4 separate regions of the Homo sapiens genome follow, and regions 2, 3 and 4 are each linked to region 1. Evidence: fine-mapped expression QTL. A gene starts in region 1. Each other region holds a variant in brackets. All regions are shown on one strand. Distances are between the middles of the regions.

The links.
Region 2: its variant is fine-mapped to the expression of KSR1 in whole blood (TOPMed, PIP above 0.99). The same link has a PIP of 0.9 or more in atrial appendage.
Region 3: its variant is fine-mapped to the expression of KSR1 in whole blood (TOPMed, PIP 0.99).
Region 4: its variant is fine-mapped to the expression of KSR1 in whole blood (TOPMed, PIP above 0.99).

The regions. Positions count from the first base shown.
Region 1 is chr17:27,451,608-27,459,311 of GRCh38, forward strand. It overlaps KSR1 (kinase suppressor of ras 1), which reads left to right and starts at 4,841. Exons shown (of 21, transcript NM_001394583.1): 1 at 4,841-5,267. The coding sequence starts at 5,037. RefSeq lists silencers at 4,371-5,130, 5,651-5,700 and an enhancer at 4,506-5,007.
Region 2 is chr17:27,577,419-27,585,122 of GRCh38, forward strand. It overlaps KSR1 (kinase suppressor of ras 1), which reads left to right. Exons shown (of 21, transcript NM_001394583.1): 3 at 74-221; 4 at 5,228-5,687. Among named protein-coding and RNA genes, the nearest start is that of LGALS9, 50 kb to the right of the region's middle. RefSeq lists an enhancer at 1,877-1,946. The variant C/G (reference allele first, on the strand shown) is at 4,220.
Region 3 is chr17:27,528,243-27,535,946 of GRCh38, forward strand. All of the region lies in intron 1 of KSR1 (kinase suppressor of ras 1), which reads left to right. Among named protein-coding and RNA genes, the nearest start is that of KSR1, 76 kb to the left of the region's middle. RefSeq lists a silencer at 4,649-4,834. The variant G/C (reference allele first, on the strand shown) is at 3,797.
Region 4 is chr17:27,519,427-27,527,130 of GRCh38, forward strand. All of the region lies in intron 1 of KSR1 (kinase suppressor of ras 1), which reads left to right. It also overlaps the pseudogene MSANTD3P1. Among named protein-coding and RNA genes, the nearest start is that of KSR1, 67 kb to the left of the region's middle. RefSeq lists enhancers at 1-106, 86-722. The variant G/A (reference allele first, on the strand shown) is at 4,057.

The DNA.
Region 1 (7,704 bases):
CCTCCACTCTCACCCGGTTCCTGCTCCCCACCTGGCCTGGGCCACCGCAGCTGTCTCAAAACCAGAGCCATGGCTGTGCCCTTGCCTCCCTACCATTGGCTCTCCATGTGGCAGCCTGAGGGATCTTTAAAACTCTCCACCTGAAAAGAACGTGACTTTCTTAGAGTACCGTGTTTCTAAAAATTTAATCTATTTTTGGGTCATGTGGGAATTTTGCTAAGATGCAGTTTGTGATTCAGTTATCTGGGGTTGGGCTCAAGACTGCGTTTCTAATAAGCTCCCAGGCCATACAGTTGCTGCTGCTCCTGGACCGCATTAGGAGTAACAAAGGCTTGGAGAAAAACCCAAACTTCCTTCCCATGTCCCACTTTATCTGGCCCCTGCATAGCTCTCCCACATCATCTCCAGCCCTTGCTCCTCTCCCTCATCTTGCTATGGCTTCTCTGGCCTTCACTTTGTTCCTGGAGTATGCCAAGCTGCTCCTACCTCAGGGCCTTTGCACATGATGTTCCCACTGCCTGGAGTGCTCCTTTCCTGGAACATTCCACATGGCTTGCTTTTCCTTATTTACATCTTAGTTCAATGGTCAGATAATAATTCTCTGTCCACTTCACCTAGTGAAGTACCTTAGCCACCAGAGACTCTCGGCTATTTGCTTTCTTCTTCTTCTGCGTAGCACTTATGATTCTCAGTTTATTTTGGTAATATATTTGTTGACATTCATTTCCTGTCCTTCCCTTCATGTATGTTCCACAGGGATAAGGACTCGGCTTCCTTCGCTTTGAGCCTACCCCAGAGCCTGGCGCATGCTAAGTGTCCTCTTCATGTTTCTTGGGCCTGTGCATGAAAATGCTCCCACCGCTGCTGTTGGTGTTTGGATGCAGACAAGCTCGGAAAAGCAATGAAGGGACCCGAGACAGAGGAGAGGAAGGAGAGAGTAAGCAAACTTTCTCTACTGAGGTGCCTCAGAAAAAGCCTCAAGAACCTGGAGATGATGCTGAAACCCTGAATCAACACATAATAGATCAATTCATCTAACTAGAAGAGATTCATTCTGGAAGGTGAGGAAGAAAGTAATGCATAGTTCAATGAGTTAAGCATTTGGAACAGTTTCAGTAGACATACAGTAAATATTTATCAAATAAATAAATATGCCGAACCCTTATTTTATGACCATTACTTTGTGTTATATAATCTGTTCATCCTCATAAAACATTATCACCATCTTGCAAATAAGAAGCTGTGCTACCAGATTAGGAGATTTGCCCGAGGTCATATAAGACTCGTCAAAGGTCATACAGCGATTCAGAGACAGAGCTGACTACCCTACTCTCTAAAACAGCTCTATTCGAAGTTGTAAAGGCCATATTCCCTGTCCCCTTCCCTGCAGTGCCATACCACCTGTTACCACTGACACACTGTGCATTTATCTGCTTGTCTGTTTCCTCTCACCACAGCATAAATTCCCTAAGGGTAAGAATCTTCATTTTGTTCACTACCCTTTTCCAGAGCCCAGAACAGGGCCTGCCATGTAAGTGGCACTTCATGAATGCTTACTGAATGTTAAAAGGATGAATGAAGGGATTATTTAAAAATCCTTATTTCGGCCAGGTGCCATGGCTCATGCCTGTAATCCTAGCACTTTTGGGAGAGTGAGGCCAAGAACAGGAGTTTGAGACCAGTCTACATGACACAGCAAGACCCTGTCCCTACAAAAAATTTAAAAATTAGTCAGATGCGGTGGCAGGCACCTGTAGTCCCAGCTACTCAGGAGGCTGAGGCAGGAGGATGGCTTGAGCCCAGGACTTTTGAGGCTGCAGTGAGCTTTCTCGCACCACTGCACTCCAACCTGGGCAACAGAGCAAATCCCTGTCTCTTAAAAACAAAAAACAAAAACAAAAAAGTTTCTCCACCTCTGAGGGGCAGTTCTGTAAACTTGTGGCTGACAGATGACTCAAATCCAGGCAAGAAGGCTGGAGGCCATCTGTGAGGAAGGAAAACTGTGGCCTGCTGAATGCTCTGGATAATCAGAGGGAAGACTGTATCCACAGAGGACAGACTCGCTGCATGGAACCTGGCGGGAGAGTAACCAGGGAGCTGGCATTTGTCCAGTCTCAGGCTCTGACATCACCCCTGTGGTGACATGGGTGGGCATGAATGCCACAAGCTGGCAGTGGCTCTTCTCAGGATGTGGCTTCCCACATAAAGTGGCCCTAGAGGGAGAATGTGATGACCAGGTCCCTGTGGCAATAACAAGTTTGATGTAAGTGCATAAATAGGCACTTACCAGAACATTTCTTGTGAGCCAGGCATGGTAGTTCACGCCTATAATCCCAGCACTTCAGGAGGCTGAAGGGGAAGGATTGCTTGAGCCCGAGAGTTTGAGACCAGCAGCCTGGGCAACGTAGAGAGACTCCATTTCTAAAAAAAAGGAAAAAAAAAAAAAAGTTAACGTTAGCCGGGCATGGTGGCACACTCCTATAGTCCCAGCTACTTGGGAAGCTGGGGTGGGAGGATCGCCTGAGTCTGGGAGGTCGAGGCTGCACTGAGCCATGATCATGCTACTGTACTCCAGCCTGAGTGACAGAGCAAGACCCTGTTTCAAAAAAAAAAAAATCTTTTGTGAATTGTGTTAGAATGAGTGAGTCGTTCAAGCCTGGCAGCTCTGGCTGCTGGACAGAGGCTCTGAACCAGCCAGGTTGGGTTGTGGATAGTCCCTTGAGATAGTTCTCTGCCCACTGACCTTCCTCTGTGCCTAGGCTTCTCAAAGTATAGACTTGCGACTGGGCTCAGACTAACCACATCAGTACCACCTGAGAACCTGATAGAAATGCAGATTCTCCTGCCCTGTCCTCTGATCTACAAAATTAGAAACTATAGAGGTGAGCTCCATGGTTCTGGGAATTAACAAGCCCTCCAAGTGATTCTGATGCATGTTCAAGTTTGAGAACCACAACTAGTTTCCCTTTCATAATAGTTACTACTTTGCAAGGAGTCGGATGGGGTTAAGGTAACAGGTTGAGAAATTCATAATATCGTGCAGGCGGTCTTTTTATAAGTTGAGTGAGGACTGGATCAATGACTCTCAATGGGAAAGGCCAGGGGTTAGGGAGGAACCTCCTTGCATTTGGAAAATCTCGAGGAGGGGTTAATTTGCAAAAACAAGTTTTAAAGTTATAGTTTTGCTTCCTAGACCTGATTTTTAAAAATTTATTATTTTTTTTAGAGACAGGGTCTTGTCACATTGCCCAGGCTGGTCTCGAACTCCTGGCTTTAAGTGATCCTTCCCCCTTGGCCTCTCAAAAGTGCTGGCATTACAGGCATGAGCCACGGTGCCCAGCCCTTAATTTATTTCGAAGGCTGGTGTAATATAAACATTAAAGGAAGGTGTAATACAAACTGCCATCCATTATTGATTGTTTTAGTGTCTACAAGGTTTGGATCCCACCTCCTGTCCAATTCTCATCCTCAAACACAAAAACAAAACCAAAAAAACAACTGTCTATCTACACACACACACACACCCTCGGCTGGCCTGAGAGGTAAAAGAAACATCCCATAGGACCTGCTGAAAGAGCTCCTGAGGCACGCTGGAGCCTTTCTTGTGTGCCATGCACTGTATCTGGCACTATAAAGAGGGTACAATAGCTAGTGGCTTCTGCAATCAAGCAGCTTACAAGAGAAAATTGAGAGGGGAGACATTTTTTCTGGTTGACAGATGTCGAAAGCATGAAGGTGTGGGAGCTTTGATCAGAGACTTGGTTTTTCAGTTTTGCCAGATAATAGAACGCATGGGGTGAACTAATGGGAGAGGAGGGTGAACAGATGGGCAAGGCTTGATTGCTGGGTTAGGAGGCACAGAAATGCACAGAGGACAAAGGACTACCAGTCCTTGGCAGTACTGTACTGCTCCATGGCCACTACCTGGGTCCAGGGCCACATTCAGATCTGAGGTTAGATAGTAAGAATTGCTAACATTTATCCAGCGACCACATGTGCCAGTAATCAATCTAGGTGCTGTACATGTATTAACTGATTCTTCATAGGAACCCTATTAAAGAGTTATTTGATGAGGAGAGTCGGGCATTCACTGGAAATCGAACGTGCCCAAAGTCTCACCCTAGACCGTGGTGGAGTCAGAATTTGAATCCTGGCCACTTGCTCCGAAGCCACCGACAATTCAGTGTGCTGTCCCCCGTGTCTGGGCTGGCTTGGTGGGCTGGGAATGGCGGGGGAATGGGACACTTATTTTGGCAGGTAAATGTGGTTCAGAAGAAAGCTCTTCGTCTTTCTCCAAGCCTGAGCAATCGTTTTGGCGCAGGCAGTCCAGAGTAGAGCGCTTTGTGAGCCAGCTACAGAAGTGCTGTAAGCCCCTTCCCACTAGATGGCAGCCCCTAAACCCACATACAAATCCTGGAACCTCCCTGGTCCCCATCTTCCAGGGCTGGGCTGCAGCTGAGGAACTGCGGGACGCACACCCGCCGGGCGTCCAGGGGGCGCCGCCCCATCCGGGGGTCGCGGGAAGCTCCTAGGCCGGGTGGGGGACGGAGGCGGACGGGGAGACGCTGCTCCCCCGACTCTCGGCGCCTGGGGGAGGAGCTGGCGCGGAGCAGCTCCACCCGGGGCTCCCGGTTGGGGCCGGCCCTCACCGCCTGCCTCGCCGCGGCCGCCGGGAGGGGAGGGGAGAGGAGGGCAGGGAGGGCGGCGCGGGCGCGGTCCGGGGCCCCGAGGGCGGAGGCCGGCGGCAGGTGCGCGGCGTGGACTACAAGTCCCAGCATGCCCGGCCGCCCTGACCCAGCCCCCGCCGCCGCTTAAAGGCTCCGGGAGCCGCAGCCGTCGGGTCGCCGCGGCTTTCGCTTTGCTGCCGCGGCTGGGAGGGTGGAAGCGGCAGACTCAGCGGCCGGCTCTACCGGCGTCCCGGCTCGGGCAGCGCCGAGGGGCGCTCCTGGTCCAGCTCTCCTGGCTCGGGGGTTCCTTGCCGAGGCGCCCGCGCCCCGGGCTCCCAGCCTCGGCCGCCGCGGCCCCGATGCCGAGGCATGGATAGAGCAGCGCTGCGCGCGGCGGCGATGGGAGAGAAGAAGGAGGGCGGTGGCGGGGGGGATGCGGCGGCCGCGGAGGGAGGCGCAGGGGCCGCGGCCAGCCGGGCGCTGCAGCAGTGCGGGCAGCTCCAGAAGCTCATCGACATCTCCATCGGCAGCCTGCGCGGGCTGCGCACCAAGTGCGCTGTGTCCAACGACCTCACCCAGCAGGAGATACGGACCCTGGAGGTAAGTGGGTCGGGGACCAGGCTGGGCTCGAGGAGCGGGCCCGGACACCTCCCTCCGGGCCCCAGTACTCCTGGCCGAGTTGCATCCTTGAGCCCGCGTCGCCCCCCTTGGAGGCTTCCCCTCCCTCCTGCACTCGCTGATGCGGCAGCCGGAGGACCCGGGACCAGCCCTCATCTTGGGCAGGATTTGTGGGGCGGGTGCGTCGTGGGAACTGGGATGGAGGCTCGAGGGGCCCGTGCGGGGTGGGCTGCGCGCGGACATCCCCTTTCCCCCCTTCTCCGCCCCCACCCCATTTCCAGTTTGCGGGGCCGCAGGACTCGTTGTCCCACCGAGTCACAAGCTGGACTTTTCCCCGTGTGACTGAGCCGAGCACCCGTGGGCCAGGGTGACGGAGGAGGTTCCCCTGAAGCGTGATCGCAGGCCTGCCGTCCCCTGTTCCCCTCACGCCCCAGACGCCGTCCTGTCCCTTCCTTTCCTCTCCTCTCAGGTCTTGTCTGCCGCCTTTTCAAAAAGTGTTGCTGAAACTGCATTTTTGTTATTCAGGCGTTTGGTGCTTTCCTTTCACGTTGCCACGGAGGCTCGCTGCTTAAAATGTATTAATAATTACCCGCTGACTCCCCCTGCTTCCCCCCAAAGATTGGATTTAGGCTTAGGAAGGATTATGCTGGGAAGCAAGCCTTTGGTGGGAAGATGAAACTGTTTAAAGGGTTCTGATGGAGACAGTCTGGAGTGTAAAGAAGAAATAAGATATGCGGGCCTTCCTCTCTCAAATTATAGCTGGGGAAGTATCTGAAGGATTTGGAAAAACCAGCCCGAGGGTTGTTGGGGCACCCTGTCCATACACAAATGAGGGCAACTAGTGGATTCTGAATGTGATTTTGGCCAGGGACGGGGCGGTGAAACGTCAGACCAGTTAATAGCTGCCCCGTCTTGAAGAAGGAACCTCTCACCATCTTGCCCTGCCACATCTGGCCTCCTGCAGGTCTGGGGATGTTTTGTTTTATTAGATCCTCAATTTCTCCTCCCCCAAACCCTCCCCCCGCCCCTTATTGCTAATTGCCTCTGCCAGCTGTCATAAGGCCCTCTGTGATCGCGGTAATTATTACAAGACCAATCCTTCCTCCAGGCATGCCACAAAGCCGAATCCTTGTTTGATTCCAAATGCTCGGGGGTGACTCTCCCTCAGTTTTATTTTCTTAAAAGCTATAAAACCACAGGACATTGGAAGAATACAGTCAGTGCTGGGTATTATTATTTTTTATTACAGTTGGCTAAAGCTGTACTGACCAAGGCTTTGCTTAAAAAACAAACAAAACCCCCTACAACTGGCCTTTCTGCATGCATGCTGCAGTTTTCCAAGTATTGAGAGAAACTGATTTTTTGAACACAGCTGAGTGTGTTTGCTCAGCAAAGTTCAGTTTTTAAGCTGACAACAATAGGGGGCCTGTGAGGCTCAGTTCCGGGAGGAGGGGTCGCTGTCTGGCAGAGTGTGCGTGGTTGGACTTCGGTGTTGCTGGGCTTGGAGAATGCTCTCTGTGTTGGCCTCTGTGGGATTGTCCCCACGTTGCTCTGAAGTGCTCCTGGCTTCCAGAGTGTGTATATAGGAGAACCACTTGCTGTGCATTCTCTGGAATGGCCTTTTGTCCTACCCTAACTTCCGGAGTCCCTCATTTTGATGGCAGTGTGGCGTTCATGACACCCCAGAGCATCCAGCTATTTAAGTGTTGGAGCTGGTTTATTCAGTGGCTTCCCTCCTGAGTGTTTGTTTAGACGATCATCCCTGGCAGCAGAGAACCCATCCAAAGGCCCACAGGGGATCTGCAGCTCCCTGTTCTTCCCACCGTGATGTGGATTCGGGTTCACTCCACTTCCTGAAAAGGCAGGGCCTGGGTTGTTTTGGGGGATGGGAATTTAGACCCCTGGAGTGAGTTCCATGGGGCTGCCACCAGCTAGTTTAGATGAGTCACTTCATCCCGGAGGCCTCAGCCTCCTCACCTGCAAAACAAGGAGGCTGGAGTGGATCTCTGAGGGCTCTGGAAGCTCGAAATTCTCTAGGTTAGAGAAGGAGACTTGGTTGGGTGAAATCAAATGTTTGTGATTGTTTTTATACTACCCTGGTTTAAGAATAACCCTCTTTAAGAATGGTTCTAAAATCCAGATTTACTGAACCCATAACATAGGGGTTAAGTTTATTAGAAGAATCTTTGCCATAGGAGCAGCGTGGTGAATAGGAAGCCCCATGGCTTTCATACTGGGCCTGGGTTCTGTCTGTGTGACCTTAGGCAAGTCCCATGACTTCTGAATCTCAAGCTCTCCTGTCTGTAAAATAGGAACGAGACTGCTCACACCTGCAGCATTTTGTCTGTCAGTCCGTGCTGATACTACGAAAAGAGTCTGCCTGGCAGCTGCCCCTAGTGAGGGTCCAGTAGCATTTATG
Region 2 (7,704 bases), 130 kb after region 1:
CAGCCTGAGGCTGAGGGGCTCCCGGCCCAGCCGACTGCTCACCGCCTCTCTGCCTGTCCCTCTGTCCCCTTAGGAGATCCCCCGAGACCTCACGCTGGATGCCCTGCTGGAGATGAATGAGGCCAAGGTGAAGGAGACGCTGCGGCGCTGTGGGGCCAGCGGGGATGAGTGTGGCCGTCTGCAGTATGCCCTCACCTGCCTGCGGAAGGTGACAGGCCTGGGTACGTGGGGCCTGCCACCCTCTCCCTTGCCTGGCCTGGTGCCCTTGGGGCTGTGGCCTTCACTATGGTGGGTGATGGAGCGGGGCAAGCGTGGCCCAGGGTTTCTGGGGCAGCCTGGAAAGGCCAGGGTTGGATGTTCACAGCCTCCTGAGAAGCTCTCCCAGGGTCCTCAGGGCTCTGGATCCTGGTGGGTCTGGCCAGGCCGAATCTGAGGGGTTTCAGCCATGGTTAGAAATCCCAGGCCTGTCTGCTGGGCTGGGCTGGCCTGGCATGGTTTCCTCTCTGTTGAGGGCTCTGTGTACCCTCTGCCAGCTTCCCACATTCCAGCCCCCAGCCCTCTCCCCGTCTTCTCCTGTCCCCATTGCTGGCTGGGTTCTGTGCTCAGAAGGCACATGCTGATGTGGGCCTGAGCCAAGGGTGATTAGGGAAACTCTATGGCTCTTTAGCTGGGAGTGTGTACGTGGCTGTCCCAGGCAAAGTGTGTAATCCTGGCCTTGCCACGAGGTCCTTGGGAATTATTCACAGGCTTTCTAAATCTTGCGTCGGAAACAGCTTCAAATGCCTGACTTAATGGTCCCACTACCACATAGATAAGGCATTAAAATAAGCCTCATGAATGGAATCAGGCCTGGTTTTTAATTATCTGAGGCCCCTGTCTTATCTCCGTCTGCCTGAGGCTTAAGGAAGGCACCAAGGTTTATATTCTGCCTGGTTTTTTCTTCCCAGAGAGGATCGGGCTTAATTTCCTCTCTGCCCTCATTGTATCAAGTCCTCTGAACACGGCACAGTGTAGAAAGTTGCACTCAATTCAGAAAATCTTGACCTGCCAGGTCTCCCGGCAGATGCTGAAAATAAACACAACAGAAGTGTGGCTGGTGTTCTTGTTCTCACATATTACAGGAGACTGAGCTCAGAGAGGGAAAGGGCTTGGGTAAGGGCACACAGCAGTTGGTGGCTGAGCCAGAATTTGAACCTTGGGCCCTGATGGCGATTGGTTTGTCCCCATGCTTGCCACCCAAGCTGAGATCTTTGGGGTAATTTGTCAGCCCTTCTTTGCTTCCTCCTTATGCCTGGATTTTAAAGAATTGTGGAAGAGTCAGCTTTTAAGTGGTAGTGACCTATTTGTGTCATGCAGGCTGCTGTCTACCTGTCCTAGATGCCAAGAGAGGGAGATCACTAATTTATGCACCTACTGTGTGCCAGGCGTGTGACACACATATTGTGGCCACATCGTTGTAAGAGGTAGTGTTGAGCTCGCTTTGTAGCTGAGGCCTCTCTGACCACTGGAGGCGTTGGATGAGTCATCTGGGGCCCCACACCTGGCATGGAGCAGAGCTGGGCTTTGAACTCAGGTTTCTTGTTCAGAGGGTGCTTTTTCCAGCAGGCCTTAGAGGAGGCCCCTGAAGAAGAAGCATTTTCTGGGTTTCTTCTCTCTCATTTAGTCTCAGCTTGTGGTGCCTCTGCATCCCCAGCAGAGTCCTAGCCCCATCACAGTCCAGGACACCGGCCTTTCGTCTGCCCAGTGCTGGCTGCACTTCACGGGCACCTGCTGGGATCCGCTGGGTACCAGTGATCCCATTAGATTGTGCATCACAGCATCTTCATTGCATCCCCATGGGGCTTGGTGAGAGCAGTCTAGTCAGAGTACAGGTGGGCTATGGAATGAAACCACCTGGGCCCTGCCTGGGCCCAGCACTCTGCTCGGCCACTTAGAACCTGTGGGACCTTGGTGAGTTACTTCACCTCACTCTGCCTCAGTTTCCTCATCTGTAAAATGGCAGTGATAACGACACCTCTCTCAGGGTTGTTGTGAAAAGGAAATGAGTTAACGTAAAGTCCTTAGATCAGAGCCTGGCATGTATTAGATGTTCTTTTCAGTGTGAGGCCTATGAGGTGATAGAAAGTGTTGAAGTCATTTCCTTTGCAATCTCTGGTCTAAAGAAAGGTGAGTGAACAGCTGGGCATGGTGGCCCAGGCCTGTAATCCCAGCATTTGGGAGGCTGAGGCAGGCTGATTGCTTGAGTTCAGGAGTTCAAGCCCCCCCTGGGCAACATGGCAAAACCCTGTTTCTACAAAAAATACAAAAATTAGCCAAGAGTGGTTGTGTGTGCCTGTAATCCCAGCTACTCAGGAAGCTGAGGTGGGAGCATGGCTTGAACCTGGGAGATAGGGGTTGCAGTGAGCCAAGATCATACCACTGCACTCCAGCCTTGGTAACAGAGCCAGATGCTGTCTCACCAAAAAAAAAAAAAAAAAAAAAAAAAAAAAAAAAGTGAGTGAAGGATGGTTGTCTGTGCTGGTGAATAGGAGATGAACATTCCTGCTGATCCTCCCAATCCTTCACCCGAGGCAGATATCACTAACCCACAGATGTTTCTGTGTGACTGTAGTGTCATTCTCAAGCAGCCACTGCCAATCAGCTGGTGTCGGTGCACACATCAAGACCCACTGGCCATCCTCAAGTGGGCCTAGAGCAGTGGTGATTAAATAGGCAACTTGCAACTTTGGGGCTTGTTTCCTTTGGTGGCAAGCTTGCTCCCTTTGGTAGCAGGCTTACTCATAGATTCATGAAATTCATCCTTTCATCTGCTCAATAAGAAACCTGTTTGGTGCCTCCAGTAGGCCAGTCTATGAGCTACAGTGTCAGTCATGGCTGTAGCTCGTAAGGAGCAAGCGGTATGGGAGCACAGGGACTGAGCAACTCCTGTCTAGTCGGTTCCTGAATAGAAAGTCACTGCAGTCAGGTGGGAGGAAGGGTGTTTGAAGAGGGGATGGGATGTGCAAAGAAACTTATGAATTGGGAAGGCTAATTCATCCCCCCTATTCTTGAGAAGTGGCTTGACCACCTCTGATGGAGCTTGTTACCTCCCACAGCTGTTCCGCTCTAGGTTATTCAGAATCAGTAGCATTGTCGGGGGCAAGGTGGGGAGCACGGTGCTGAGATCGATGTTTTCAATTCCCATCCCACCACTTTCTTAGCTCTCTGGCCTTGGGCAGTGTCTGTGGCCTCCCTGAGTCACAGTGACCTCCACTGTACACTGGGGAGAAGAACAGATATTGCGGGAGGGAGGAGGGAGGCAGGGCTTGTGCAATACAGGTGCGTCAGTCCCTTCTCACAGGCTGTAAAGAAATACCTGAAACTGGATTGGTTATTTATTTATTTATGAGACGGCCTGGAGTGCAGTGGCGCGATCTTGGCTCACTGCAACCTCTGCCTCCCGGGTTCAAGCGATTCTTGTGCCTCAGCCTCCCAAGTAGCTGGGACTACCAGTATGCACCACCACACCTGGTTAATTTTTGTATTTTTAGTAGACACAGGGTTTTGCCATGTTGGCCAGGTTGGTCTCGAACTCCTGACCTGGTGATCTGCAGGACTGGATAATTTATATAAAAAAGAGGTTTACTTGGCTTATGGTTCTGCAGGCTCTCCAGGAAGCATAGCAGCTTCTGGTTCTGGAGAGGCATCGGGAAGGCTCCAGGCATAGCGGAAGGCAAGGGGGAGTGAGGCGTCCCACAGTGTAGGAGCAGGAGCAAAAGCAAGAGCGAGAGGGGGCAGGGAGGTGCCACACACTTTTAAACTCACTCTCTCGAGAACAGCACCAAGAGGATGGTGCCAAAACAGTCATGAGAAACCACGCCCATGATCCAGTCACCTCCCACCAGCCCCCACCTCCAACATTGGGATTACAATTCAATATGAGATTTAAAGTTCTTAGCAAGACATTCAAGGCCCTTCCTGATCTGGCCCCACTAGGCTGACCCCCCCAGCTTCATCCCTTGCCTCTCCCCAGCTTGTCCTTACCTCTGACAGCACACAGAACTCTTCGTAGTGACCAGAAGGTGCCGTATGCCCTTACCTTCCCATTATGCTGTTCCCTCTGCCTGGTGCTCCTTCTCCACCTTCTTCCATAGCTGGCTCATGTGGAGCTAGCTTCATAGGTGGCTCCCAGGTGCCACCTCCTCTGGGAAACCTTCCCTGGCACACTCCCTCTCTCCAC[C/G]CCCACAGCTGATTTAAGGTCTGCTCTTCTGCAGAGCCCCCTGTCCTGGCACAGAGCATACATAGTGTGTTATGTGCCTGTCATGCCCATTCGACTCTACAAGCACAAGGATGGGTCTTTTTAGGCCTTTCCACCCAGCATCCAGCATGTGCTTGAATGGCTGTAGCTCAAACACTACAGAGCCACACAAGCCTCGGGGGCCTCAGGCACAGGATCATGGTAGGGGCAGCCCACAGTCACTCGAAGGCTGGTGTAGAAGGAAGTGGCTGTTGATCCCTTTCTTCCTGGATCTTTTTTCACAAGCCCCAGAGCACTTTGCTGTTGGATGCTCAGAATAGCCCCTCGTCCCAATGTTTGAATTTTCTTAAAGTGGAGTTTTTCCTTCCTTCACACACCCAGCTTCCCTTTCCTAACTCTTAAAGATTGGTCACCCCTTCGGTTTCTGAGGTCACCCCACTTTTGGGGTGGGTTTCCTGGATTGCTCCCCCAAGACCTGCCCATAAGAGCCCTGCACGAGCCAGTTCCTCTCTGGGCTGTGCTTCCTCCTCTGTAAAACAGAGATCCAGGTTGAGTATCCCCTATTTGAAATGCTTAGAACAAGAAGTGTTTTAGAGTCTGGGTTTTTTTAGATTTTGGAGCATTTGCAGTATGCCTACCTGTTCAGCATTCCCCATCCCCAAATCCAGAGTGCTCCCATGAGCATTTCCTGTGAGTGTCATGTCGGTGCTCAGAAATTCCCAAGTTTTGGAGCGTTTTGGATTTTGGATTTTCAGATTAGGGATGCTCAACCTGTGGTAGTATCTGCGCCGAGGGCCTCATGGTTGGCTAGATAATGTGTGCGCATGAGTGAGCGGCCTTTATAAACCAGGTAAAGGTTGGTAGTTGAAGCCTTCCCTTAAGAAACAGTGCAGCCTCACACCAGGTGTTGAACATCTCTGGCCCCTAGCCATCTCCCCTGTGAATTCCTTCCAGCCCTGACCATCTGTGACTCCACGTCTTGGTCCACAGGAGGGGAGCACAAGGAGGACTCCAGTTGGAGTTCATTGGATGCGCGGCGGGAAAGTGGCTCAGGGCCTTCCACGGACACCCTCTCAGCAGCCAGCCTGCCCTGGCCCCCAGGGAGCTCCCAGCTGGGCAGAGCAGGCAACAGCGCCCAGGGCCCACGCTCCATCTCCGTGTCAGCTCTGCCCGCCTCAGACTCCCCCACCCCCAGCTTCAGTGAGGGCCTCTCAGACACCTGTATTCCCCTGCACGCCAGCGGCCGGCTGACCCCCCGTGCCCTGCACAGCTTCATCACCCCGCCCACCACACCCCAGCTGCGACGGCACACCAAGCTGAAGCCACCACGGACGCCCCCCCCACCCAGCCGCAAGGTCTTCCAGCTGCTGCCCAGCTTCCCCACACTCACCCGGAGCAAGTCCCATGAGTCTCAGCTGGGGAACCGCATTGATGACGTCTCCTCGATGAGGTGAGTGCTCCTTCTGGGCAGCTACCAAAAGTGCCCTCTGTGGTTTTCTAATCATAAAGATATATGGAAGGACCAATAAAATCAACCCCTATAGACGTGTGTAAAGTCAAAAGTAAAAGGTGCCCCCATCTTTCAGTCCATTCCTCAGACTACTTTAGTGGTGTGGGCTGAATCCTTCTAGATTTGGTTTTGTATGTACACGTACATGCACATGACGTGATGCCACGTATGGGTCAGGGTAGGCCAGGTTACACAGAAATAACAGATATGCCCAAATCACCAGGTCTTAAAGGAACAAAGATTTGTTTCTTGCTCATGCCGCCTTGTCCATCTTGTCCATCATGGGTCAGCCTCCTTCCGGGCCCAGACTGTCTGAACATTGCTGGCCACGGTGGCAGAGGGAGAAGTGAGTTCCAGATGTCATGCCCTGGCAGCTGCGTACTCCTTCTTGGAAGTTCCACCCACCATTCCTGGCCCAACCTGAACAGGAGAATGAAACAGTGCTCTTTGCCCACACGCCCAGGAGGGGAGAACTGGAATATTTGGCAGAAACCACTAGTGACTGTCAGATACCATACCATCTACTCTGTCCCATGACTTGTTTTTTCAACTTCCCTTGGTATCTCTGAGAACATCATGTCAGTACATCTTGGAATGTTTTACTCTTTTGTTTAGTTTTTGACTTACAAATTTTTCTATCTATATATTTTGAACAAGTGAGACAGTCACATGGTCCAAAGCGCAGCAGCTCTGTGGCTTCTCAGGGTACGTGGTGAAAACTCTACCCCACCATTTTTATTCAGTCACAGGGTTCCCCTTTCAGGAGCCAACCAGGCTAGCAGTTTTGTGTATGTCTATAATTAATTAAACCCCATTTGTTTGACTTGTTCATATTATTTCGTTGTATAGTTTATCTTGTCCCTTCTTGATGGGCGTTAGATCATTGTCTTTTTTGTTACAAAGATTGCCCTTGTCAGTATACCCTTGGCAGCACAGAAAGAAAGGGAGTGTTTTCCTTGGGTGCCTCTTACCTTCTTGTACCCCTGAGGATTGGGGCACCTGGTTTCTCTCCTCGGCATGGGCACCCCTTTCCTACGCTTGATCTTAGCCAAAAGGCCGAGAAGCAATAAGGGCACCCTTTTTCTAGGGGGTTCCTTGGGCCCTGGTGTATCTTGGGCCTTGGAGTCATCTTTGGAACGGGCCTGATCCCCTCTCCCAGTGCATGCTGTTAGGGTCCTTTATGGGATGGAGCCTGGACAGCTCCGATGGGTTTGAGTATGCTGCCCAAGGAGGAGAGATCCAGGTGTCACCGACCCTGCTGCTCCCACTCGGGCTGTCCTGCTGGGGCCTGGGTCCCACCCAGAAGGGGCTGTAGAATGCAGTGATGATGGCCACACGAACATGGGTCAGTCAGAGGAGGCCTCACAGTGGGCTCAACCCAGTCCCTGTGTTTCTGTCTTCTCCCAAGAAGAGCATTAGGAAAGCTGTGGTCTCATTCCCATGCTAGAAGGTGGCAGGGACACAGCTTCAGGCAGATGACACAACTAGCCTCAAACTCCAGCCAGTGACTGAGCCTCAGACCCTGGGATTCTGAGTCCAGTCCCTGCAGAGCTACCAGAACCAGCACTGACGTGACGCTCAGGCCACCTCGCTGTTCTGGTGACCCCTGAGTGCTCTGCTTCCTCCAGCTCCATGTGTTCTCAGGGGCAGTGGCTGCCCCCTGGGGAGGCTCAGGGTGTGTCCCTGCCTGACTCTCCTTTCAGGGGCTACCTCTGCTCTGCACAGCTGTTATCTCTGCCCTCCTGTCCAGCCACACCCTTGCCAACTGATAGTTATTTTTTCTTTTTCTGAGAAGGAGTCTTGCTCTGCTGCCCAGGCTGGAGTGCAGTGGCGCAATCTCGGCTCACTGCAACCTCCACCTCCCGGATTCAAGCGATTCTCCTGCCTCAGCCTCCCGAGTAGCTGGGATTACAGGCATGTGCCACCACACCTGGCTAATTTTTGTATTTTTAATAGA
Region 3 (7,704 bases), 77 kb after region 1:
TTTTAGTAGAGAGAGGGTGTCACCATGTTGGCCAGGCTGGTCTCAAACTCCTGACCTCAGGTGATCTGCCCACCTCAACCTCCCAAAGTGCTGGGATTACGGGTGTGAACCACTGTGCCTGGCCAAGTTAACACGTTTAGTCTTTAACACATTTGGTCTTTGGAAGAAACTGAAGCTCAGGAATGGATCAGTAATTTGTTAAAGGTCACACCGCTAGAAAAGAGTGGATCCAGTATGTGAGCCCAGCTCTGTCTAATCATGATGTTCAGTTCTTTCTCCTTCCCAGGAGAGACCTGTACTTCTTCACTTCTGGCTCCTGCTGTTTTTTTAAGCTGAGGATGTCCTCTTCTCTTCCTATTGAAACTCCATTTCTGGGCCAGGCATAGTGGCTCACGTCTGTAATCCCAGTGCTTTGGGAGGCTGAGAAAGGAGGATCTCTTGAGCCCAGGAGCTTGAGACCAGCCTGGGCAAGATGGTGAGACTCTGCCTCTACAAAAATTAAAATAAAAAAAGTTAGCTGGGTATAGTGGTGTTCACCTGTAACCCCAGCTACTCAGGAGGCTGAGGTGGGAGGATTGCTTGAGCCTGGGAGTGTGAGGTTGCAGTGAGCTACGGTCATGCCACTGCACTTCACCCTGGGTGACAAGAGAGACCCTGTCTCTACTGGAAAAAAAAACCACAAAAATCCCAAAACAAAACTTACACCACCTGTTCCCCAAAAACCTATTGGATAAAAAAACTCCATTTATTATTCTTTCAGTTTGGATAACATTTTATGATTATAAAAATGACACCCGTTCTTTAAAAATACAAAAAAGTAAATAATAAAACTTTCCAGTGTTTACATTTTGAGATGTTAATTTTGCTATAAAAATAGAAATTGACCTCAAAGTTGAAAAAAGAAAATTAATGCCTTAAATTAAAATAAAAAAGATATGTGAAGATCATACTGCAAATGTAGTTTTCTTACCTTGAGTTGTTAACTTTCTAGAAGATTATGGGCATTGCCTCATATGATTAAGTACACTGTTAAAAGGGACTTAAAAAAAAAAAGTTGCCTCATAGTGTTCTGTGATTGACACACCAGAATGTAGTTACCTACTTCCCCATGTTTGGCTATTTTAAGTTACACTTCCGTGAATAGGCTTATGCTTACACTTAATTGTTTCTTTAGGATAAATTCCTAGAAGTGGAGTCTGGCTCAAGGGGTGAGGGCCACCTGGTGAGGCTTCTGTTGCATCATCCTGTTTCTCTGCTGCCCTCCAGGGGGGCGATGCCGCTCCACGCTCCTGCCATGCTCCTGCCACAGCCACACTGGGGAGTCCCTCTGCCAATGTTGCCAAACATCTGCCCATATGTTTCCATTTTGTATTTCCTTGCTTATTATTAAGGTGGGAGGTTTGTTATGGTTGCCGGCAGAGGTAACTTTCCTTTGAGATAAACATGTATATTTCCTTGGCCTGTTTAACTGACTTGTTTGTGCAACCCCAGTCATTCTTCAAGACCCAATTCAAAGCTCATCTTTTCCATGAACTCTTTCCCGACACCCGTCTTTTCTCTGAAGCTGGAAGCTTTAATTTTCATATCTGAATTCTCACAGCCTGTGTGTATCTGAAAACCCTTGTCAAAGACACTTTTGCATTGCAACTTGATATCTTTGGCCCCCACTTGAATCTGAGGTCTTTAGGGTAGGAGATGGGTCATTCATTTCTGTGTTGTTTGCAGGGCCTTGGCACCATACTGGGTAACTAGTGGGTACTCGATACTCTTGAATGGATGGATAGATGGACACACACTGTTCTTAACAAACCAACCAACCCATCCCACACCCGTCAGCAAAATGAGTTTAATGCCACCTTATGAAATTGCTCTCTTCCTTTCCGCATCTTTGCCTTTGGAATCAGTGAGGTTTTGCTCCATCTAAAGACCCAGCAGGGGCTGGGCGCAGTCCCAGCACTTTGGGTGGCTGATGTGGGTGGATCGCTGGAGCCCAGGAGTTTGAGACCAGCCTGGGCAACATGGTGAAACCCTGTCTGTACAAAAAATACAAAAATTAGTTGGGTGTAGTTGTGTGTGGCAGTGGTCCCGGGTACTCAGGAGGCTGCGGTGGGAGGATCGTTTGAGCCTGGGAGGTCGAGGCTACACTGAGCCGTGATTACACCACCGCACTCCAGCCTAAGCAACAGAGTGAGACCCTGTCTCAAAAGAAAAAAAAAAGACCCAGCAGGGCAGATGGAGTAACCAGCAAAGCCGACCTTAGTGGTGAGGCTGGGCATGGCGGCCTGAGCAGGGATCGGCTCCAAATAGTACGTCTACCGTGGGCTCCTGGACCTTTCTCCCTTTGCTAGAAGAGAAGCACCAGCACCCTCCCTTTTCCTCTTGTGACATTTTAAAATGTATTATTCCCATTCATAGCCTTATAAAATCAGTACGCAGTAATTAGAGAACATTTGGAAAACACAGAAAAGTAGAAGGAAGAAAATAATTACCTATAGCCTTCCCACTCAGATCAGCCCATTCACAGATGACATTTCTGCTGTGTTTTCTTTCAGTTGTGTTTTCCAGGCAAAGACTTTGTGTGCGAGGTTTTGCTTACGTAGTTCTTGCCATCCATCATGTAGATTTTTTTGTCCTGCCTGTCGCTTAGTAAAATAACACAAAAAACTTCCTATGTTTTTGTAAACCTGCTCAGTGGCTCTGTCATAGTTTAGTAAGTGGTTTTACCATCACCTCCTTAGCTGTGCTTCCATTGTTGGGGCTTTGGGTTGTTTGCACTGTGTCCCTCTTGTAAACAATGTCGGGATGGACAAGTTTGTGCTGGGCGTTTCCTTGTCCCTTTGGCTGGTTACCTCAGGCAGACTGGCCCATACCAGCCCTTCCCCGCTTCATTCTCCTCCCTTGGGGCCAGTGCCCTATTCGCCTCTCGGTTTGTGTTTCTCAGTCTCCATGTGTAGCAATATGTTGAGAAACAGCTTCCTTTTTCAGGAAGAAAGCTCAAGATGTTGAACCTCGAGGAGGCTGTGCACAAAGGTGCAGAGTCCTGCCTGCTGGGTCATGGCCTTGGCACTGCAGGGCGGCCCCCTTCTGCCTCACAGGCCCAGGGTTACAGAAGGTGCAGGTGACGGGGAGGCCACGCCTTTGAAGGGGCTGCCTGGCAAACCTTTTCCCCTGACAGTAAGCTGAGGGGGTGGCCCTGGTCACATGTTGCAGGTCTCTGGAGGGGGTGTAGTGAATACCTGAGTCCATTTTCTGCCTGGTCCCACACTCGGATCCGTCATGGAAGATCTGGCCCCTGTGTTCTGTGGGCGAGTGCTTGGGGGAGAACCCCTCCTGTGGGGCTGCTGAGATGTGTGCTGTGCTGGAGGTGGCTTCAGCCCTGCTCCTCTGAGCAGCTGCTTGGGGCATGCTGTTGAGCTCCAGAGAGCACTTCAGCATATAGCCAGCAGCGCCCTGAGGAGCTGCAGTGACAAAGGCCACTGTGGCACTCAAGGCTCAGGTTTGGATGGTGGAGTAACATTGCCTAGGTTCACCTCCCACCCTGGACAGTTACTTTATCTCTCTTTCATCTCCACTTGGGGATAGTAATAACACCCACCTCCCCAGATGAAATGAGTTAGCATTTTATACACTTCTCAAAACAGTCCCTGTTTGTTAAATAAAAATAGGGAACCAGCGTTACCAGCTAGACCACTCGCTCACAGCAGGTTGAACCCAGGACTTCTGCCATCCAGTATGGGGGAAAGAGTGCTGGACAGAACCAGGAGACCGTCCTGGCACTGCCTTCTACTTTGTGTGA[G/C]TTTGACTAAGTCGTTGTCCCTCTCTGGGCCTCAGTTTCCTCATCAGTTTTTCATCTATTTCTGTGAGATGACCTTAGGCCCTTCTTGTCTTAGAACATCCAAGGATTTTGTAATTTAAAGGCATTTCAGACATCTGAAGATGGGTCTGGTCCTGCTAATAATCCTCACTGGTTGACGTGGTCCTTAGATGGGGCCAATTGCAAAGGTCAGAGGGCAGGAGATGCAGAGCCCTGTGGGGTTTGCCCGGTTTTTCTCAGTGCGGGTGAGCTATCCTCCACCTGGAGGGTTATGGTAGCTGGGTCACCTGGGAACAGGCCGTGGGAGAACTGGCCTCCTTGGGAATGTGTTGTCCTGCGCGGCAGAGCACTTTCAGGTACGGGCTGCTCTGTGAGGCCACCCTGTGCTCCAGCCCGCAGCACTTGAGACTGACTTGCCCTGAGGTTTGTGTGAGCGAAATCGGGTCTTATGCAACAGTGAGTGCGTGCATCTCCGCTTCGAGCTGTTACATCAGAAAGCTAAACACAGAGAGCCCTTGCAACTGGAGAACTAGCAGGAGGCCCTCGCTCTGGTTCTTTGTCAGCGGGTGGGACGGGGTAGGATGTGGCTTACAGGCAGCTGTGGAGGAGAGGACTGTGCTAGGAAAGAGGTTGGAGCTGGTGGACTCTCTCCCAGGCGCTGCTTTTCCAACAGGCTTTCTGGAAGGTTCTGGCCTCCTTCTGATCAGGTGGCAGAGCATCCCTGGGGCTCCTCACCAGTATTCGTGTGCTCTGGGTCAGTGATGTCTCCATCTGCATCACTGCTGGTGGAGCACAGTGGGAAAGGTCAGCCTTCAAACTGTGGAAGGTCAGACCCAGCGCCTCAAGCCTGGAGGGGCAGCGTGGGGCATCAGCCTCTTATGAGTTTAAGTTGGCTCTGACACATACCAGCTGGGTGACGTTGGGTTGGCTTCCTGACCCTCTGAGTCCTTTTTTATAAATGAGAACATTTGTACCAAGATGCCCAGCATTGGCCTGATGGACAGTAGGCACCCCAAAAGTCTCAGTCATTTAAGGAAGTAATGTAGCCCATGGTTAAGAGCATGGGCTGAGCAGCTGAACTTCCTGGGTTCAGTTTCTTGCTCTGCCACTTACTAGCCGCATGACATGGGACTGTTCCTCATCCTCAGTTTACGCCTCTGTACAATGGGGATAGTTGTGATAGGGCGTCTCTCACAGGTTTGTTGCAAGGATTAAGTGAGTTAATTCAGTTGTCCCTTGGTATCCATGGGGGAGTGGTCCCAGGAACCCCTGAGGATACCAAAATCCACAGATTCTCAAGCCCCCTTAGTACAGATGCAGATGCAACCATTCTTTTTTTTTTTTTTAAGATGGAGTATCACTCTGTCACCAGGCTGGAGTGCAGTGGCATAATCTTGGCTCACTGCAACCTCTGCCTCCCGGGTTCATGCAATTCTCCTGCCTCAGCCTCCCGAGTAGCTGGGACTACAGATGCACACCACCATGCCCAGCTAATTGTTGTATTTTTAGTAGAGACAGGGTTTCACCATGTTGGCCAGAATGGTCTCGATCTCTTGACCTTGTGGTCTGCCCGCCTCGGCCTCCCAAAGTGTTGGGATTACAGGTGTGAGCCCCCGCACCCAGCCGCAACCATTCATTTTTTTAAAAAGATTTCTGATCTGCCGTTGAATCTATGGATGCAGAACCCACAGATCCTAAGGGCTGTCTGTACGCATAAAGCACTTAAAGCAGTGTCTAGCGCATAATAGTCACCCTTGTTGGAGTTAGCTGTCATTGTCTAATTTCTTCAATAAGGGTGGTCAGTTGATTTCTTGAGAGCTTGGCAGCATACCGCCTCTCTTTATTTTGAGATGCATCCCCACCCTGTTCAGCTAGAGCTTGTCCAAGGTGACAGGTGCGTGTGCGCACGTGTGTGTGTGTCTTTTTCAGCCATGTCACCACTATCCAGGTCTGGAGAGTAGCTCCCCTTGCAGCCTGGGGGCCAGGCCTCTCCTCGGCTTGCTTCTTCAGGCTGTGTGCATCTTGTTACCCATCCTGGTTTGCCTCCCTCTTCTGCACAGACTGTGCTCAGAGGTTCGTGTTGCACAGTTTGGCTCGGGTGTGCCCAGCTCTTGACCTGAGAATAAAGTAAGGGCCAGGAAAGCCATCCTTTCAGTGTGAGTGTGTTCCAGCCACGCCTGGCCTTGTCTACGTTTGCCCATTTTCAAGGAATACACCAGGGTAGCTTGGGACATGCCATGTAGATGGAGTCATCCAGGAATGTGTTTAAGAATCTTAAAGCAATAAACAAGTCAGACTAACTGCTTTCAAAGAGTACAAGAGACTGGAATTTTCATGATAGAGATGGCTGACAATGAGTGTTAATCTATTATAGCAGGCCTGATGTCTTCAGCAATAGACATCCCCCTCTTCCCCCATTTTGCAGATAAGGAAACTGAGGCAGAGGGTGGTTAAGTAATCTGAGTTAAAGCAGCTAGTCAGTGGCCGAGCTGGGATTTGAACCCGGGTCTGTTGGCCTCTAGGCCCCAGCACCTGACTATCCATCACTATACTGCCCCTGGCTGGCATTCCTGGGATTATACAGCAGCGGCATCCTGTTGCCTGAGCCCTTTCTCATCCCCCGCTAATGATAGTGCTAGTAATGTGAGTCCAGTTACAGCTGTGTTGCCTGAGGTGCACAGGGCCTAGGGGGATAACTGCGTTGTCTTTAGCCATTGCTTGTTAGAGAAGGTGGTCTTGCCTTCTTTCTCCCTCCCAGAGCTGATGTCACCTAAACCCTGCTGCAATATTATTCCTGGGTTTCAGGTCTGATTTTTATGTCCCCTACATCCCATATCTCCTTCCTCTGACCAGACAAAATGGTCCCTCAGGAAAAGAGCTTTGAAGATTATTTAGTGGAGATGGCTGTGGCTAATCAGTGACCTTCTCAGATCGCTTAGGAAAAGCGTGTGGATGTCCTTGTCAGGGCTTTCTTCCCTGAGAGGCATCTGAGAAGTCCCTGGGGTCACAGCTGGGAGTGACCCTGGGTGGGACTCAGTGTTTCAGGGGTGCTTGGTTTTAATCTATGAATTTAAAATCATGCTTTCCTGGGTGGGAGTTGGGGTGGGCAGTGGTTGTGAAGCTGGCGCCACAACATAGGATGGTGTGTAGCCTTGGCCATGTGCCTTTACCCCTGAGCCTTGGTTTGCAGTGAGGATCAGATGAGGTGCTGTCTTGCCAGAGCGCTCCGTAAACTCTGTAGTGCTGTGACTGAGTGTGAGGTGCTGCGACCAAGTATCCATAAGATACACAATCATCACATTGGTGTGCGCCACAGAAAGAATGCACAGTCATGTCACTAGGAGTAATTCTGGTCTCATTTGAAACTCAGCATGGTGGTTTGGTGCCAGAGGTGTTCCTTGGGCCTCTGGTACAAGTGAATTGTTAAAAGGGTGTGGATGCTGATCTGCCCTAATGCATAGAGCTTCATTTCACAGCCGGTTGCTCTCCTTGTTCCACGGGAAGCTTGCAGACACATTAACAGATCAACAATCGTGATCCTTCATCTGGACGCTTTCCTTCTGCACTCTTCCCCAGTCACCCGTCCTGGTTTTCCTATCAGCTGCCAAAGGCACAGCTTTGATGTTAAGATTAAGATTGCAGCGAAGGAAGATGGGAAGGAATCTTTGCTGGGAGCTCGCAGTCAGCCAGCAGCTGTGTCATATTGTTTTGTCTTCACAGTGATCTTTTGAGGCTGATCTTTGCCCCTCATTTATGGCAGAGGAAGTGAAGGCTCAGACATTTAATTGCCCATGGGCCCTTAGCTGGTAGGAGTCAGGGCTGAGTTTCAAATGAGACCAGAATTACCCCTAGTGACATGACTGTCCATTCTTTCTGTGGCGCACAGCAAT
Region 4 (7,704 bases), 68 kb after region 1:
CCGTGTTACAGCTGAGGAAAGGAGTCCCCTTCAACCCCCGGCATTTAGTGATTCTATCATGTCGGCATAGTTTCTTCTCTGACCTGGCCATGGTGCGTTTGATGCCAAGAATGGGCAGCCTGAGTGGTGATGGTCAGTCAGTGCCACTCTGTCAGTCCCGGGACCCCAGCTGTCCCCGTTCTCTGCACAGCCCAGCCTTGGGTGCTTGCTTGTGGGGCCTGCAATGTGAGTGTTTAGAGCTGCCAGATTTGTGGGGGATTTCTGACACTGTTAAAACCAAACAAAAAGCAAGGAGCTCTACTGAGCTGTATGATTATTTAGGCTCTAAATTGGGACGGGTTGTGGTGAGGGACCTAGAGTCTAAGACCAAAGGAAAGTCCCTGGTCCATGGCACAGGCTTTGAATGTGGGCCCCACCACCTGAGAGCTGTGAGCTTTGGGAGGAGCTCTTCATCCAGCCCAGCTGGGAGTGGGGATAGTAAAACTGTTTCCCCAGCCGGGAGTGGGGATAGTAATACTGAACCTGGCAGGGCTGCTGTTAGACCATGGGTACTCAGTGCAGCAGAGTCTCTGTAAATGGCAGAGGTGGTGCTTTGCAGATGGGAGAAGGGAATAAACCTGTAGCTGATGTCAGGCCCTTTGTTGCACCCTTTATACCGAATGAATTATTTCATTTCACTCCATAACACCTCTGAAATAGGCTACACTGTTCCCATTTGACAGACACCAAAATGAGTTTCGGAGAGTTTCTGAAACTTGTCCAAGTTCATGTAGCAAATGGAGTTTAACTTCCAAATTCTTTCCACCTTGCCATGAGAAAATTTCCATTCCTGCAGAAGATGGCCTTCTATAAAGGGCACCGAAGGGATTTAAGTCACACCTTGGGACACATTCCTAGATCCAAGTGGTTTCTGTATGTTATAGGCCAGACAGTAGCAAATGCAAAGGTAAATTTATGTGCCTGTGGAGGGGGAGAATTAATTTTTTCCCCTCCCTGGACTTTAACTCTGGAAAGCTTAATCTTCTAAAGCTTAATCTTTAGAAAGGGCTCAGAAACTCTGCTTGGTGCGCATAATAAGTGTTGTGTCCCCAAGGCATTTGTTAGATAAAACGAAAATTAAATAAATAAATAAAATGCTAATCGTGCCACCAGCCCTGAAGTCTCCTTGTCTCTGCTGGCTTTTCCGTGCAGAACGGGCACAGTGGAGCTTTGTTCTTCTGCCCCTTTGTCCGGACGAGGCCTCTCAGGGGCTGGCTCACAGGCAGGGAGGCCAGGCTGTGCCCGCCCAGGTTTCCCAGGCCCCGCTGCCTCCAACTCTCACTGGCCTCCTTTTCCCGAGGGTGGGGCGGCCCCCTGCCAGTGGATTGGAGGGGTGCTGCCTTCCCCCTTACCCATTTGTCCCAGTGGCCAAAAGGGGCTGAAAGCAGGTAGCTGGAGGATGCGGGAGACGTGTGATTCCCTGTTTGCCAGTTGGCCTAACTGGAATCTTCCTGAAATCATTGTATCCCTGTGAGCAGACAGCAGGCACTATGGGCTGTTTGGCCTTGGGTTCGCTTCCTGCCTTGGGCAGTCTGTGGAATGGGGCCCGGTCCTCAAGCACTTGTGGCTGTCACCAGCAGGAAGTTTGTTCAGCACCGTGGTTCTGAACCCTGTCCTCATGTTTGAATCATGGGTGCTTTTAAAACACATCCATATCAGGAGCACAGCCCTGGGCCAGCTGACTTAGTACCTCTGGGGTGGGAACTGGCCCAGGCATCTCTATATGTATACCCGCTCCAAGTGATTCTGATACACAGGGAGGGTGGAAAGCCCCTGGTTAGGATACCCAAGCTGAAAGGACTGCTCAGGAGTTGCTTGTTCCACCCTTCAGTTTACCCATGAGGACAGTGAGTTGACAAAGGCCATTCCTTTTTTTTTTTTTTTTTTTGAAACAGGGTCTAGCTCCATTGCCCAGGTTGGAGTGCAGTAGCTCACTGGAGCCCCGACTTCCTGGGCTCAGGCAAGCCTCTTGCCTCAGCCTCTTGAGTAGCTAGGATCACAGGGTCTAGCTCCATTGCCCACGTTGGAGTGCAGTAGCTCACTGGAGCCCTGACTTCCCGGGCTCAGGCAAGCCTCTTGCCTCAGCCTCTTGAGTAGCTAGGATCACAGACATGAGCCACCACGCCTGGCTAGTTTTTGAATTTTTTTGTAGAGATAGGGTCTCACTGTGTTGCCCAGGCTGGTCTCAAACTCCCTAGGCTCAAGTGATCCACCTGCCTTAGGCTCTCAAAGCGTGGGGATTGCAGGTGTGAGCCACCACGCCTGGCCTGCAAAGGCTACTCTGATGGAGGCAGGTGGGTTAGAACCAGGTCTCCTGACGTCTGAGCTCCCAAAGCACCACCTGTTGCCCTGTTAATCCACACTCTCATGGCTATGGGAAAGGCAGGCAGTTGGAATTATGATGTTGATGATAAAAATGTCTGCTTATCACCCATGCTGCTAGGGAGACCAGGCTTAGTTAGGTTTACTTTCTCTGTTCTTTCCTTTCTCTTGCACATATTTACCATTGCATCTTTTCACATGACATCACAAGTATTTATTTTCTAGGCCATGAGTTCTCAGAGGTCAAGTTCTGGATAATGGCTGGGTTTTTGTTACAGCCATTCTTATACACTGGTACCTGGCCAGAGCAAGCTTTCAATAAATGTTGTGGAGTGGAAAGGTGGATACCAGACCCCAGCCTTGAGCCCGGTGGAGTGTCTCTCTGAGCCCCTGGGTTAAGTGGGTCAAGGCAACTACCCTTTGCACTTGGGGCAAGTTGACATGAAAAATCCATAGACAGGCAGAGTCAGGAAAAACAGGACTGAGAAGGGGCTATGAACTTGATCCTAGGAATACTGGCTTACTTGAAACTAAACAACCACGCAATCCTCCACACAGCTTTGGCCCCCGCTCCCCGTGGCCCTCCCGCCCAGCTCGCCTTTGCAGTGAGCAGATCCAGTATACATGTCACAGCTGGAATCTGGCTTGTGTTTGGAAATAAACAACTTGGCCCCTCTCTCTGCCTGGGATTTTCCTTTATCAGGAGATGCTCATGAGCCACCACCAGAGATGAGGTGTTTCTTTCCAGCAGAGATGAGATGTTCTTTTCAGCAGCCTGCCTGAGAGCTCCAGGGAAAAGTGGGAGGGCTTTGTGGTGGGACAAACACCTTCACATTGTCCTTTTCTGGTTGGTATTGGAGAGGGCTTGAGTGAGTAGGCTGGATATGAAATAATTTGAGGGGTGGTGAATGCAAAGGACTAATCCACCAACCCCCCAGCAAGTTTGCAATGAGGGAAAGTCTCTGTCTTGCAAGAGGAGACACCATAGATAGAAAGCAATGGGTGCACCACTCTGAATGCTGGCTGCCCAGCTAGGTTGCTTTTTGCAGGGTGGTCTGTCCTCAGGCAGCAGCCAGACAACATTTTGGGGAGAGTAGCTCAGGGGATTCCTGTGTTTCTGCTGTAGCTAGTTCAGGGTACTAAGAAAGAAAAAAAGGATCCTGCTACCATCATGTTAGGTAGAAATTGGCAGTTTAGAAATACAGCATGGGGAGGGGCCTCCTCTCTCACACAGGGCCCTGGGGAGTGTAAATTGGTACAACTACTCTCAAGAGAACTTGACTAGATGTGGTGAAGTTAGGGATACACATACCCTATAGCCAAAAATTTTACTTCTATTGTCTGTACTGGAAAAACTAGCATGCAAGTGCTCAAGGAGAAATAGATGTACATTGTAACATTTTTGGTGATGATGAAAAACTAGAAGGAAACTAAAAGCCTATTAGCCAGGAAATATATCAATAAATGACGGTTTACACAGTGTAGTACTTTTCACCAGTTCCATCTGACTTACATGAATCAGCCCGACTACATTTAAGAAAAACGTTGGTAGAAAGGTTGCAGAATATCTGTAGTAATGATACCATTTCTGTAAGGTTAAAAAAAAAAAAAAAGGAAAGATACCATTTTTGTGTGTTTGAATTATTTAGAAAATGAGAGACATGTTGCTGCCATCAAGTTGCTCGCAGTCTAATG[G/A]GGAAAGTTGGCAAATAAACAGCTGGAGGCTTCCAGATAGTGAATGTTGATGTTATTGACCAAGTTCCTTGTCTTGCAAGACATGACCAGTTTGGAGGGGATATTAGATAAAATAGAGTTCAAATAACAGTAACTCAAGCAAGTTAATTTTTCTCACACATAAAAGAAGTCTGGATGTAGGTAACCCAATGTCGGTGTGGTGGGTCCACAAAGTCATTAGGAACTCAGGAACCTTCCAGCTCACCCTTCTGCCATTCCTTATCCTTATGTTCCTAGATGGCTGCTGGAGGTCCAGCTTTCACATCAGCTTTCCAGGGAGCAGGATGAATGAACTGGAGAAGGATGTGTCATGTATATATTCCTTTTGAAATTACCATGTGGCACTTCCATTTATGTGTCATTGGCCAGGTATTAGTCACACAGCTACACCTGCCTGCAAGGAAGGATGGAAACGGGCCAGCTAAAACCTCAGCATTCTGTTAGGAAGAAAGGAGAGTGGAAAGTGGGAGGCCACCACTAGATGATGAAAGATGAGATAGTGAGTTTGGGTACCTCTGGCCCATGCAGGCTGGCCATCCATTTGGGGGTTAGATTGGGGCTGGAGCTTATGAGTGGAGTGGGGTTCAGAGTTTTCTAAATTGGGAGGCATAAGCGTGTAGGTGATTGTGGGAGTCCTGGGAAGGAGGCTGCTGAGTTGTCAGAAAGGTAGGAGAACTGGGAAGCTAGGGGTGGGCATGTCTGGGAGGAGAGACCACTTGGCCAGATGCCCCAGTGAGGTCAAGCAGGATGAGGGTGGGAGTGAGAACATGGACTCTGGGGGCTTCTGCAAGAGCAGTTTTGGTGGAGTAGAGAGACTAAGATCAATGGAGGAGTAATATTGAACAGCTGAGGAAATGTGTCAAGATCTTTGAACTTGAAGGGAATGAGAGAGAGAAGGGGGAGCTGAAGAGAAAGTATTTATTAAGGCCAGAAAGATTTGAATGCAGGTTTGGAGGCTGAAGGACAGCTAGATCTCCCCTCCCCATCCCCTTCCCAAGGAGGGAGGTATTGATGGGAGGTGAGGATAGGCAAATCCAGCAAGTACAGGCCGGTGGCCTCCAGTATCTCTGCAAAGGGGCTTGTAGAGCATGAAACTGGTAAGATGCTGCCCCAGGAATTGGGGAAGAGCAAGGAATTAGATAGAATCAAATCAAAGAGCTGCTAAGCCAGAGGAAGTAGGTCAAAACCTAAAACTTTGGATGTCCCCAACCCACCTGCACATTGAGTTTTCTCCAGTAGCAATTATAGGAGCAGAGAAAAAGAGATTACCCAGGATTAGAAGGCTGCAGGCAGAGCGGCAGGAAAAGGCAGGGAGGGGGCTCTGGGTTCCTGGAGTGGCAGTGGTGGTGTGGAGTTCAAGCAGGGTTATATTACATTATGCTGTAAGGTGGAAAACGGTGGGGCACATTTTAGAAATATTCCCATTAGAAATGGTAAGAAAGAAAAAATCTTATGCCCATGAAGTTGTAAATGTCAGAGCATTGTCTCATCATTACTGAAAATGTGATCATTCTAGACACACAGAATTGTGCTCTCAGTCACCCGCATCAGTCCTTCTGTATATTTTGAGTTGCATTAATTTGCAGGCCACTTATTTAATATGAAACTGTGCCTGCTTGTTACTTGGTAGCAGACCTGGGAGCCAGGTGGCCTGGGTTCAGATTCCAGCTCCGCCTCTTACTTACTGTGTGAACTTGGACAGGGCTGTGTACAGTCAAGCAGGTTGTGCACTGCACAAGGGGGTGAAGGGTTCCTTAAATCCAGACTGCCCCTATTGCCAGGAATATGCCTTTTGTGGGTCTGTGCTGTGTCTGTGCAGAGGATGGGATGCACTCTTTCACCTTGCACAAAGGCACTGCATGGGTTGGTTCTGGCTCTGGCTTTGGGCAAGTTGCCTCTGTGCATCAGTTTCGTTGGAGAGAATAAATGAGTTACCGCATGTAATGTGCTTGGAACAGGGCCTGACACATGGCTAAGAACCATGGTAAGGATTAAATGCTGATTATATGTAGTACTGGAATGAGCTGAGCCTTCTGGGTCTCCTCTGAAGGCTTATCTTGAGTTTCCCAAAGCCTGGCATTTAGGAGAGGATACAGCTCTCCACCCCTTACAGTTTGGTCACTGAGTTTGCATTTTTTCCCAAAGGTTCCAAAGGTTTCCAGAGGTTCTCTCTAAACCTTAAGCTTTTCCAGGTTGCAGCTGCTTAATCTTCAGGCAGCTGACCTTGGTGTTCCTGGTGCCTTCTTCATCTGAAAGAGGATGAGGTAGTTGGGGCCAAGGACACCCCGGGTAGTCTAGCAAGATTTGCCCTTCAGACATTTGTGTAAATCTTCTCCCTAAACATCAAACTGGAGAAATACAGGTGTGCTATAGGGAGAATGAAAAGAGCCCTTTCCAATTTGGAACAGTTTGCGTGGAAGGTGGGGCCTTGCCCCTATGGCATCCAGATCTGTTCGGTAACTGCAACTAACTTTTCTTTTCTTTTCTTTTCTTTTCTTTTCTTTTCTTTTCTTTTCTTTTCTTTCTCTCTCTCTCTCTCTCTTTCTTTCTCTTTCTTTCTTTCTTTCTTTCTTTCTCTCTCTCTCTCTCTCTCTCTCATGGTTCTTGTATGAATTCTAATTAAGAGACATTACATTCAGAATTATAGCACTCATGGTGATAATTTTCAGAAGACTGTAACAGCTTCTTTGCCACTTAAGGGGTACAAAGGGTGCAGCTGTTTCCCTGAAGGAATTCTTAAGTTAGTGACTACTACCACTCAAATTTTCCTAGTTGTCGCTCTGTTACAGGTTACTGACCGCAAGTCCATGTTCCAGACATTCTTTGCCAACACAATTAATTACAAGAGAGCCACCCCCAAAGTCTTAGGGTGAATTGGGAAAGGGCCGGTTAAATGAGGAAGCAGGCCATTCCTTGGTAAAAGTTTGTAGTTTTTTTTCCCAATACATCTTCTCTTTATTGAGAACTTCATTTTTATCCTGTGTTCCTCCTCTGCCATCTCACACTCTCGCTCTGTCTGCTGGATTTTGGCCACAATGCACCTCATTCATTTGTATCAGTTGCAATTGTAAGATGGACATTTGTTGATCATGTTCAGTCCTCGTGCATCTTTTTTAAAGCACCTTCCTGAGAGATTTTGCTCATGTAGTTTTTATTGGCTGTTATTCTGACAGCTGAACACGAGGGTTCAGGTTGAGAGGTCCTCTCACGTGTTGGAAAACGTATGAACTCTTTCTCATCATCGCACAGTTCTCTATTTGAAACAGCAAATGATTCTTGGGCCGTGGCGTGGTATTTGGGCTCCTCCTCCGGGGGGAGGGGTGGAAGGAGTGCTCTGCAGGAAGTAGAGCTGCTCCAGCAGCATGCTGGTGATCTCCTTCCCTAGGACTTGGTTACTCAGGAGGGGGCTGACGCTCCCTTTCACCTTCTCTCTCCTTTCATGGGCCATAATTGTTTTAGTCCAAGCCTTGATGTTCTCCCAGCCCTTCTTCAGCTGTTTGAAATCCGGCAGGGACAGCTCGGCTGAGAGTTGCATTCGTGGGTCAGCGCCTGCAGGTACATTGATTGCTTAAGGGCAATAGTTCACACATCACTTTTCTTACATTCCAG